Linked DNA regions of Homo sapiens. The protein of the gene in region 2 purifies or fractionates together with the protein of the main gene of each other region. This does not show direct contact. Each region holds a gene or a part of one and is shown on either strand. Other genes may lie near its edges.

Evidence for each region.
Region 1: the proteins of EIF3J (region 2) and EIF4G1 purify together in Homo sapiens (affinity purification with western blotting; 3 studies listed by BioGRID and IntAct, with this or other methods). This does not show direct contact.
Region 3: the proteins of EIF3J (region 2) and KSR1 purify together in Homo sapiens (co-immunoprecipitation; one large-scale study listed by IntAct). This does not show direct contact.

What each region holds. Positions count from the first base shown.
Region 1 is NC_000003.12:184,317,530-184,321,178, reverse strand, and holds part of EIF4G1 (eukaryotic translation initiation factor 4 gamma 1), read right to left. Parts: intron 3,463-3,649; coding exon 3,363-3,462; intron 1,491-3,362; coding exon 1,378-1,490; intron 917-1,377; exon of another isoform or gene 550-916; coding exon 457-549; intron 253-456; coding exon 186-252; intron 1-185.
Region 2 is NC_000015.10:44,557,647-44,561,295, reverse strand, and holds part of EIF3J (eukaryotic translation initiation factor 3 subunit J), read right to left. Parts: coding exon 3,646-3,649; intron 1,048-3,645; coding exon 974-1,047; intron 279-973; coding exon 147-278; 3' UTR 1-146. UniProt on the Homo sapiens protein: Component of the eukaryotic translation initiation factor 3 (eIF-3) complex, which is required for several steps in the initiation of protein synthesis.
Region 3 is NC_000017.11:27,620,407-27,623,799, reverse strand, and holds part of KSR1 (kinase suppressor of Ras 1), read right to left. Parts: intron 2,608-3,393; coding exon 2,527-2,607; intron 1,872-2,526; coding exon of another isoform or gene 1,865-1,871; exon of another isoform or gene 487-1,864; coding exon 408-486; 3' UTR 1-407.

The DNA.
Region 1 (3,649 bases), on a different chromosome or scaffold from region 2:
TCATCTTCTCCCCACCTAAGCTATACTTCCACTTTCATCCAAAACCCAATTCACCCTCAAAATCCCACAACCTGAAATCTAAGTCATCATTCTCTGGTACCCAGTTCAAGTCACTCCACCACCTCAGCATTTAACTGTTAACATTCCCTTTCCCCATAAAAGCTCCGTCCCACCGGCTTACTTACCTGGCCGGACAATGACAGCAACCTGGGGCGTCTCCCCATTAGCTTGAGGCTCCAGACCGCCTCCCGTCTGCAGGACACAAAGGGTTACCAAGTTTGCACTGAAGAGTCCCACAACCCTTCTTTACTAGAGCCATTTCTACTTTAGCTCTGCCTAGAAATCCAGGAAAGCAGGGAAATAAATCCCTTAGTTGAAAGAAAAGATCCAGGGACTTGGGAGTCCAGGGCAGAACAGACATCCCAGCCAGGGTATCACTCGAAAAGCAGACAGTACCTGGGGAGGGGTGGGTGTGGAGGCAGTGCGGGCCCCAGACATGATCTCCTCTGTGATATCCTTTCCTCCTTGGTTTGGATCTCGAATTCGGATCTGGGGAAAGAAAGCTATAAGATGAGTGGGAAGCAGGAAGAGCCCACCTCTCCACCCTGCCCCAATCTTAAGACTCTGGGCCAACTCCCCACCCCCCAGCGGGAAGCAGGTAGGTAGGTGCCAGAAACCCCTTGAGTTCCACTTTCAGCCCATCTGGCTGCTCTCGTAGTCCCTGCCCCAGCTCCCACCCTTAAGAGACCCTTGATCTCACAGAGCAGCCCTGTACATCACAATGCCCCTCCCTCCCTCATCCCTACCCCACCAGCAGTCCCCAAGTCAGTGGCTGCACACCCTGGGGCCCAGGACCCCCATCTAGAACCCAATCGGCTCACTTGTGGCTAGTGTGCCTGATCTCTGGGGGCAGGGCCCAGATCCAGTAGGTGGAGCCAGGGTGACTCAGCGGCTTCCCCAGCTCTGGCACCCTATTCTGGGCACCACGCCCAGGGCTTGAGGACTGAGCAGAGGCGGAGGCCTTGAGAGCTTCCAGGACTGGGGGGGCAGGGGGGAATGGGGGCTGGGGCCACAGAAAACAAACCATTTCCAAGGCAAGCCACTAGAAACCCAAAACCAAGCATAGTTCTTCCAACCCCCCAGCACCCAGGTCTCGCAGGAACTTCCTCGCTAGGCACTTCAGTCTTCCCATGACCTGCTTCTATGCTGAAATCTTAGCATCTTACAAAGAACCTGAGCCCTCCACAGACACCATTCTCTGCCCACTCTCAGCTCCTTCCTCCTCAAGTCACTGCTCTTTCCGGCACAATGTCCCAGCAGCACCTGACCTTGATTCTCCCCTTCCCAGATGTCCCGGAGCCCCTCACTGCTACTCACCGTCTTACGCTCCCTCTTGGGAGCAATCTGGGGTGGCTGGTTCATCAAAACTGGGGTGGGGGCCACGCCAGTGGGAAACTGCTGCACCCCTTGGGCTGGATAGTAGGCGCCAGCTTGGGGGAGGGGGGACGGAGAAGAATGGTGGTAGCGTCAGGGCCCAACCATATACTAATGCCTGCCTGACACCTCCCACCCCAAAACCTCTCACCACCCACAGCCGGCCCCTTGCCTTGCCCTGCCCTGCCCTCCTCCCCCAGGGAATTAGGTGTCTGTCAAAGCTGGGGAACCAGTCTGAACTGCGTTTACAAGAATTCCTAACACACACACACACACAAACACACACACACACACACACACACACACACACACACACACCCCTCGTAGGCAGGCACTCTTTCCTACCACACACCAGTGACCAGGAGGACTTATGTCTGTCCTTCCACCGTACAAGTTACTCTCGTGTGTGTACCCCACCCGCTATCAACATGTACACACATACTCTGAACCTGAAACAGAACCAGGTCTTTGGCTGGTAATGAGAGAAAGAGATCTGCCAACCCTGTTCCATTTAACTTGAGTCTAGTTCCTGTCTCCAGCCCTTTACAAAGGGGCAAAGAAACAAAGTAACATTATGAACTAGGCTCAAGATGAAGAAAAATTAATTCCTTAAAGCAAACTATCTCCAAAGTGGGTGAGTTCTTTTTTCCCCTTAATTTTTTTTTTTTTTTGAGATGGAGTCTCACTCTATTGCCCAGGCTGGAATACAGTGGCACAATCTTGGTTCACTGCAATCTCCACATCCCGGGTTCAAGCGATCCTCCTGCCTCAGCCTCCCGAATAGCTGGGATTACAAGAGTGCATCACCAGGCCTAATTTTTGTATTTTTAGTTGAGACAGGGCCAGGCGTGGTGGCTCACGCCTATAATCTCAGCACTTTGGGAGGCTGAGGCAGGTGGATCACTTGAGGCCAGGAGTTCGAGACCAGCCTGGTCAACATGATGAAACACCATCTCTACTAAAAACACAAAAATTAGCTGGGTGTGGTGGCACACGCCTGTAATCCCAGCTACTCGGGAGGCTGAGGCAGGAGAATCACTTGAACCCAAGAGGCGGAGGCTGCAGAGAGCCAAGACTGTGCGACTACATTCCAGCCTGGGTGACAGAGCGAGACTCCGTCTCAAAAAGAAAATTAAAATAATAACAATAAAATTTAGTAGAGACGGAGCTTCACTATGTTGGCCAGGCTGGTCTCGAACACCTGACCTCAAGTGATCCGCCTGTCTTGGCCTCCCAAAGTGCTGGGACTACAGGCGTGAGCCACCGTGCTCAGCCCCCCTCAAATTTTAAAATAGAGACAGGGTCTCACTAAGTTTCCCAGGCTGGTCTCAAACTCCTGGCCTTAAGCAGTCCTCCTGACTCCCAAAGTGCTGGGATTACAAGCAAGATCCGGGCACATTCTTTAATTTCATCCCTAAATTCCACTTGTTTTTGACAAGCACAAGTGTATTTGTTTAAATTTTGCATACATATAAACAAAAACATACATGTATGAGAGATTCATACTCAAAACTTTTCCTGATAGGTGATCAAAAAACTTGGAAGCCACTGCCATAAAGAACAGACTAATCCTTCCCTAGAACATAAATAAAAAATAGCTACAAAAACCTCCCAAATTTGCATTACATGGGCTCCCAACCATGGAAGAAGTGTCACAGGGAAAGCCTACTAATAGGCTCTCAGGCTGGTGCCTGATCCTACATTCCCTGATGTGGGAAAGACTCTTAACTCTCCTGGCAATAAAATCAAATTTTCTCCCCACAATCAACACCAGTTAAATATTAAGCACCAATCCCTACCACCTATTAACCTTATCATTTTTAGACCAGAAGCCAAGCCTGGGAAGGGTCTTCTGCTTTAGAAATCAGCAGATGAGTTTAGATGCTCCCTTGGGCTTGTTCTCACCTCTGACTCCCTCCCCTGCTTACCGTAGGTCCCAAATTCTGTAGGGCTTGCACCTGGATAGAAGCCTGGGGCTCCTGGCTGCACAGGGTACTGCTGTGTCGGGACAACGTATGTGGAACGCCCCTGGTGGGGAAGGGGGAGAGGGAGAGAAGGAGTTGAGGGAGCTATGAGTTCCATATCAGACTCCAAAAAGAACATAGGTCAAGACAAGACAAGCCAACTCTGGGCAATGACCAGAAGGAAGTCCCACCTCTGGAAAAGCAATGGAACTGGAGGGTCAGGGTGAGTTAAGTGAGAGGTATAGGGGTCT
Region 2 (3,649 bases):
CTAAGTGTCAAGGGGTTAAATAACCAGCACAAAAGATACTGCACTTCTGATTGTAGCATTTGGCAGAACTGAAAGGAAAGGAAGTTGTGCTACATGTTCAAGGGATTGTGGGCAACATAAAGATGACACCAAGAAAAGATAAAATGTCACATGAAGTCTTCATAGTCTTGTACATATCCTCCATCATAACCACCATAATCTGCCAGATCATCTTTCATGGTGGCTTTTAATCCCCCTCCAGGAACCACACCTTTCTTCTTCTTTTTGGCTTTGCTTTGCTAAAGATGAAAGAGAGTTAATTCATGAACCTTAGTGTGCTATGGGCATCTTATCTGGTACAGCAACCCTCATAAACAAACACACAAAAACCTTTGGTCCCAGAAACACTAGTTCTGTAAGGGACATCCGAGCCTACATGTTTTGGACCTGAACAGGTCTCCCAGAGTCAGTCTCTCCAAAACTTGATCTGGGTCCTTGGTCCTGCTCTGGATACCTAGCCCACCAGCAGGGGTTATAAGTTATTGGTAGACAGCCTTAACTTCACTGAAGCAAATTTAGAAAAGTGTGGATAAGTACCCCCCAATTTAAAATCACAAAGCTCTAACCTTTACTTGACATACTTCTCTTACTTTACTCTTATAAATACTCTGCAAAGTGAGTATTATTGTTCCTATTTTAGAAGGGAGAAGACTGAAGCTTAGAAAAGCTGATTTACCTATACCTATTAAGTAGCAGTGCTAGTATTTGAACCCAGTCTGTGATTTCAGCAATTTCTATTAACTCAGAAAAGGGGAACATGTCTGGAAACAAAAGGACAGTAATAGCACCCATACTCCTCTTCTAGTCTAACTTAAATGGTATTAGTGAGTTGCTTGACTTTTAATTAGGACAGGCTCCTATTATATTTGTTGACTGTTAGACCTATAACCCCACTCTAATTTAATACCCATTTCCCTACACAGCTTGCTCTTACCTTTTCTTGCTTCTGTTTTTCACTGCAAAGCACAGTCAGTGAATTGGTAATTTTTTTCAAGTCATCAATTTCCACTTAAAAAAAAAAGGGCATACCATTAAACTTGAATTTTTAAGCATTTTGAAAAGTTAAAGCTAAATATGTACATTCCATATATATCTATATATCCCAAAATGTACATTCCAAAAGTGTTATGAGAAATCCAATTTGTTCATTGTTAAACTTCAGTAACTTTGAAAGGACCATGAATTTCTCCTCTTTAAACGTAAGGTGGCCGGGCACAGTGGCACATGCCTGTAATCCCAGCATTTTGGGAGGCCTAGGTGGGTGGATCACTTAAGCCCAGGAATTCGAGACCAGCTTGGGCAACACAGCTAGACCCTGTCTCTTGAAAACAAAATTCATTTTATTTATAATGACGACCTGTAATCACCAACACACCATTGCTCAACCAAAGAGAAACTGTCTTTATAGCTCACAATGCTCCCTACTATCCTTCCTCAGTCTAAACAAATGGGGGAGGATAACATGCCCTTCCATTAACACACCCCCAGTAATCAGGGAGAACAGACAAATAAACATGAAATGACAATTACTATTATTTTTTTTTTTTTTTGAGATGGAGTCTCACTCTGTCACCCAGGTTGGAGTGCAGTGACGCGATCTCGGCTCACTGCAACCTGCGCCTCCCGGGTTCACACCATTTTCCTGCCTCAGCCTCCCGAGTAGCTGGGACTACAGGCGCCCGCCACCATGCCCAGCTAATTTTTTGTATTTTTAGTAGAGACGGGGTTTCACTGTGTTAGCCAGGATGCTCTTGATCTCCTGACGTGATCCGCCTGCCTCGGCCTCCCAAAGTGCTGGGGTTACAGGTGTGAGCCACCGCACCCGGCCTATTTTATTTTTTTTTTTGAGACAGAGTCTCGCTTTGTCACCAGGCTGGGGTACAGTGGCGTGATCTCGGCTCACCACAGCCTCCACCTCCCAGATTCAAGTGATTGTCCTGCCTCAGCCTCCCGAGTAGCTGGGATTACAGGTGCGTGCCACCATGCCCAGCTGATTTTTGTGTTTTTTTTTTTTTTTTTTAATAGAGATGAGGTTTTACCATGTTGGCAAGGTTAGTCTCAAACTCCTGACCTCAGGTGATCTACCAGCCTCAGCCTCCCAAAGTGCTGGGATTACAGGCATGAGCCACCACGCCCGGCCAGAATGACAATTCTTAAACCTACAATGACAACACCCTATCCCATGATGTCTCCATTTTCTTGCACGGGAACTACAATGAGAACAGTGACCATCTCTATGTCCTACCAAGAAATAGTCCTGTTCAGTGGACAGCATTATCAGCCTTATAAAAATATGAAGCTGGAAAGAGACACCAGTTTTTAGCTACCAGAAAGTGTTCAGTTTTGGTTAGAGAACACCTCCAAAAACCAGAAAAAAATTAGTACATGCAGAATAAAATATCAACTCTGGGCACATTACCAATCAAATGTAGAACCCTCAGCTTAGTGATAATTTATCAAAGAAAACCCAATTCATTGTGTAGGATTCCTTTTTCTCCATCTTAAAAACTGCAAATAGGCTGGGCGTGGTGGCTCACACCTATAATCCCAGTACTTTGGGAGGCCAAGGCAGGGAGATCACCTGAGATCAGGAGTTCCAGAGCAGCCTGGCCAACATGGTGAAACCCCGTCTCTACTAAAAATACAAAAAATTAGCCGGGCGTGGTGGCAGGCGCCTGTAATCCCAGCTACTCAGGAGTCTGAGCAGGAGAATTGCTTTTTTTTTTTTGAGACGGAGTCTCACTTGGTCACCCAGGCTGGAGTGCGGTGGCACGATCTCAGCTCACTGCAAGCTTTGCCTCCCAGGTTCATGCCATTCTCCTGCCTCAGCTTCACCTTGTTAGCCAGGATGGTCTACAATCTCCTGACCTCGTGATCCGCCTGTTTTGGCCTCCCAAAGTGCTGGGATTACAGGCATGAGCCACTGCGCCAGACCAGGAGAATTGCTTTAACCCAGGAGGCAGAAGTTGCAGTGAGCTGAGATCGTGCCTCTGCAATGCAAGACTCCATCACAAAAACAACAACAACAAAAAAACTGCAAATACTAGCAAAACCAGTCCCTTCCATACATTCCTGCTTCACCACCCATGGCTGTCACTCCCATTCACCCTGCCCTGAAATGTATGACTCCTATCAAGGTGTGGCACCACAACCACGGACCCAGAGAATAGGTGCCAGCCCTGTCACTCAACTTGCACCCTGTCTAATTCTGATTTGTAAAAGACAGTGGCTGAAGTCTCACCCAACCCAAATCCTACAGTGCCAGAGACCTTTTCCCTCAAAAGATACTTCCCAGCCCCTCTCAAGTGATAATCAGATAAAAAGAATAGGCCAGTGTTTTATTAGCTGCTTTGCTGACAAGCCCAGGTATCTCTTAGGGAAGCCATTGTAAAACAAGAAGTCCTCTTACCCCTACAAACAAACAAAAAGATCCAGCACTCAAATTCACTGTATCTGCAGAACAACATTCACAAGGTAATTGCTAAAAACAGCAAATCATGAGTCTGTATTATAGTATCCTTGAAAATAAAAAATAACCTTCAACCTCCTGAAGAGAACATCCTACTAAAAATCTACCCAGAGGGGCTAGAAATTAGAATTACTTACATGA
Region 3 (3,393 bases), on a different chromosome or scaffold from region 2:
TTACCATGTTTGTCTTCCTTCTGGCCCAGCATGGGTCCCTCACCGCCTACAAGGTCCTCAGAGGGGATGGCCATTTCCGCCATCCTGGCCGTCAGTGCCAGTGCATCTGCACAGACTGTTTTTATTATTACCTATTGTAAAACATCAGGTTCACTCAGGAGAAATATACGTGTAAACATTTGCTGTCTGTCATGACAGGTTTGGTTGTTGGTGGTGTCATTTTAAGAAATAGCAGGTGCAGCTCCATCTCCCGAGTGGGGTTTATGGCCAACAGTCTGAATCTAGGACGTGTGCTCCTGGTTTGCAGCGCTGGGCAGGCAGTGTTTTTTTGTCGTGGTGGTTGTTGGGATGTTTCAGAAACACATTTTAAAAAGAAAGAGATCAGCAGCGAAAAACCATATGGCTGGCTACATCTTTGGATTACTGGACTCCAGGACGCCCAAGCCAAACCTTTCAAACCGGGGTACAACTTTGCTGCTGTTAATGCTGCAAAGAGGAACAAAAACAAGAATTATAGCCCCATTGATCTTCATCAGAATTAGGGTAACACTAGCTAGGAAATGAGTTCAGCAGAGGACCTGGCCTCCAACAAGAAATGAAAATGACTGATTGGCCAACAGCCCTGGCAGAGCTGCCCCTGGTCATACTGCGTCCAAGGCCTCAGCTACACTCCAAGTAGTCCTACTTGGAGCAGCAACGGTGGCTCATTCATCTCCAAGTCCCAAGCTCCCAGCATGCTCAGTACTGCTGTGGGTTCCTAGGAATTGTTTTCTCATTTGCAGCCCAGGAAAGCTCTTGCTCCAAGTAGAACTGAGAGAGAAGAGAAACATGACTCCCAGGATACCAGGAGTGACAGGGCATGTTCCTTTTAGCAATAAACTCTAATACTGGGGTGCATCAGGGCCACCTGGGAAGCAGGTTGAAATGCAAATTCCTAGGGCCCCATTCCAGAGATCTGGGTTCAGCAGGTCTTGCTGGGGAGGGAGAACAGAAACCTGCATTTGGTAAACAGTGCATTGACTGCCACAGGGGACTCAGCAGCCATGCTCTTGACAAATGCTGACCTGGGGTCTGGTCTATGGTACACTGGGCAGCTGTAAAGGAAGTAACTTTGCCAGGGTGGCAGGGTGGGGACGGGGCAGAGACTTTGTTTTCATCAGAAAAATTGTCTGGAGCCAGGTACCTCTTTGCTTTAAGACAATTTTTCTGAGGGTGCCACTGAAGACACAACCCTTCCAAGCTGGTATCTTTCATGGCCACAGAACTTTCTGTGTCTTCTGATCTAACTCTACAGAGGGGACTGAGACAGGAGCCAGCGCAGAGGGTTCCTGTGACCAGGGTGCCAGCCTCAGGGCAGCTCTGAAATCATTCCACTCCTTGTTGGACAAAATCCCCACAGGTTAAAAGCCAAGCCAACACCCTCCCAACCTCCGCCCGCCCCGCACTAGGCACACACCCAGTGGGAGGCTGGTGTGCTCAGGAGGGTGGAAGGCATCTCACTAAGGTGTTAGCAGTGAGACAGAGCCACCCAAACAAAAACAAGACCAGCCCTCAGAAGAACACGGGAGCAATCAGTCATGTCCAGGAAGGTAGTTAGAAGCTGCCCAGACTGCCTTGGAGGGAGCTCAGTTAGTGGGATCCTCTGAGAGCAGTTACTTGGGCATATGCAGGCCACGTGGAGAGGGCAGAGGGCCAGTTTTTAAAACAAAGCAAAAGAAGTAGCCTCGAGAGAGACGACTGGAGCAGCAGAGGTGGCATCCCCTGGGTTAGTGCCCGCATCTCATTTTGCATTTTAGCAGAAGTCACGGTGCTGAGTTGTTGATTAGGAGGAAGAAAGCCCCTGGTGCATGCAAGGCAGCCAGGCCTACAACCTACAGAGGGAAAGAGAAGAAAGCAAAGAACAGCATCAGAATCATAGCCCCAATGCAGAGCCTGTCGGGAGCTAGAGGTCTGGCCAGAGCAGCTGGGCAGGGGACTCCCTTTCTCTTCCAGAGAGAAAGGGCCATCCTGGACTCCATCCCCCAGGCTTGGCTGCACTGCATGCTCAGAAGGGATCCTGGGCACAAAGAACCCTCTCTAAGCTCCCGCAGGGCACAGTTGCAGCACGTTTATAAAGAGGATGGAACATGCCCACAGCTCCTTAGCCCTTGACGAGTAAAATCTACTTCCAAGAGTATTTCTGCTTAACTGGATTCTCTTCTCTTGAGCTCTGGCCAGGGGGACTGGGATCCTGGGGGCTCAAATCAATGACCAGAATTTTCTCCGACCCAGGGACAAGCCACCCATTCACTCATGGTGTGGACAAAGGCCCCGCCACATGCTGTGGCTCTTCTCTCACCCAGCGAAAAATGCAAGCCTGTGTGACCCTTGCTGGAAGCCATTTCAGCTGCAGAAACCTCACTTTGGTTTGCGAGAATAAATGACACAAAGATGGGAGAAGCTGGGAAGCGGCGACAGAAAGGAAGCAGGGCTTGTGTCAGGAAAACCAGAGACAGGCAGCCAGCGAAGGAAGTAACAGGAACACACTATTCCTCCAGAATCGGACAGGAGCTCTTAAAGTCAGGGTGGCCGTAGCGTCCTTTTCCATAGTAGCGGCTCCTCCAGCGACTGGGAGTGCCCAGCGACCATTCCACCAGGCGTGGGAAGAGCGCAGTCCGGCCCCGGCATGTGATGGAGTCAGGCACGTGTGGACAGGTGGAGGAATCAGGTGATGGGAAAGTGGGAGATGACAGAACAGCACATCCGCCACCCCCCGAAAATAAAAAAGTGACAAGATCAATGGAAAGAAAAGAGAAAGTGAGAATTAGGGGGCAAGCGTGTAGAAAGTAAACACTGTGAACAGGAAGCTTTGACACAGACTCATTCAGGAAAGGAAAGCCCGCATGCTTTCCTCGAAGGGGCTGGGCAGGGAACAGCCCCATCTGTGACTCAGTTTCCTGCCTGTGAAATGAGAAGGTGGGACTATATGGTTTTTGGGGAATCTGGAATGATGTTCTGAATGCCAGTGTCCACCTAGTGGAGCCTTTTCTTTCGTCACGGAGAAAACCAGGGCCCAGCTTGTTAAGCAAGTTGCCCACGGTCTGATTAGAGCTTGGCCTCGCTGCCTCACATCACCCTCCTTGAACTGCTAAGAGCCCCATGCTCCTGGTCTCTGCTGGGATAGTTCTGGCTCAAAACCCAGCCCTGACGACCTTCTTCCAGAGACTCTTCCTCCTGTCCCCCAGGTGGATGCAGAGGCCCCCATCTGGGCTTTATCACAGCACTTGGCATGGTATCACCCTTTGCTCACATTCATTCATGCACATTAAATATTTAGTGCCCAACTATAATGTTCCTGGGACTGTACTAGGAGCCAGGAATACAAAGGTGACAAGAAAGAGTCCTGATGTGTGC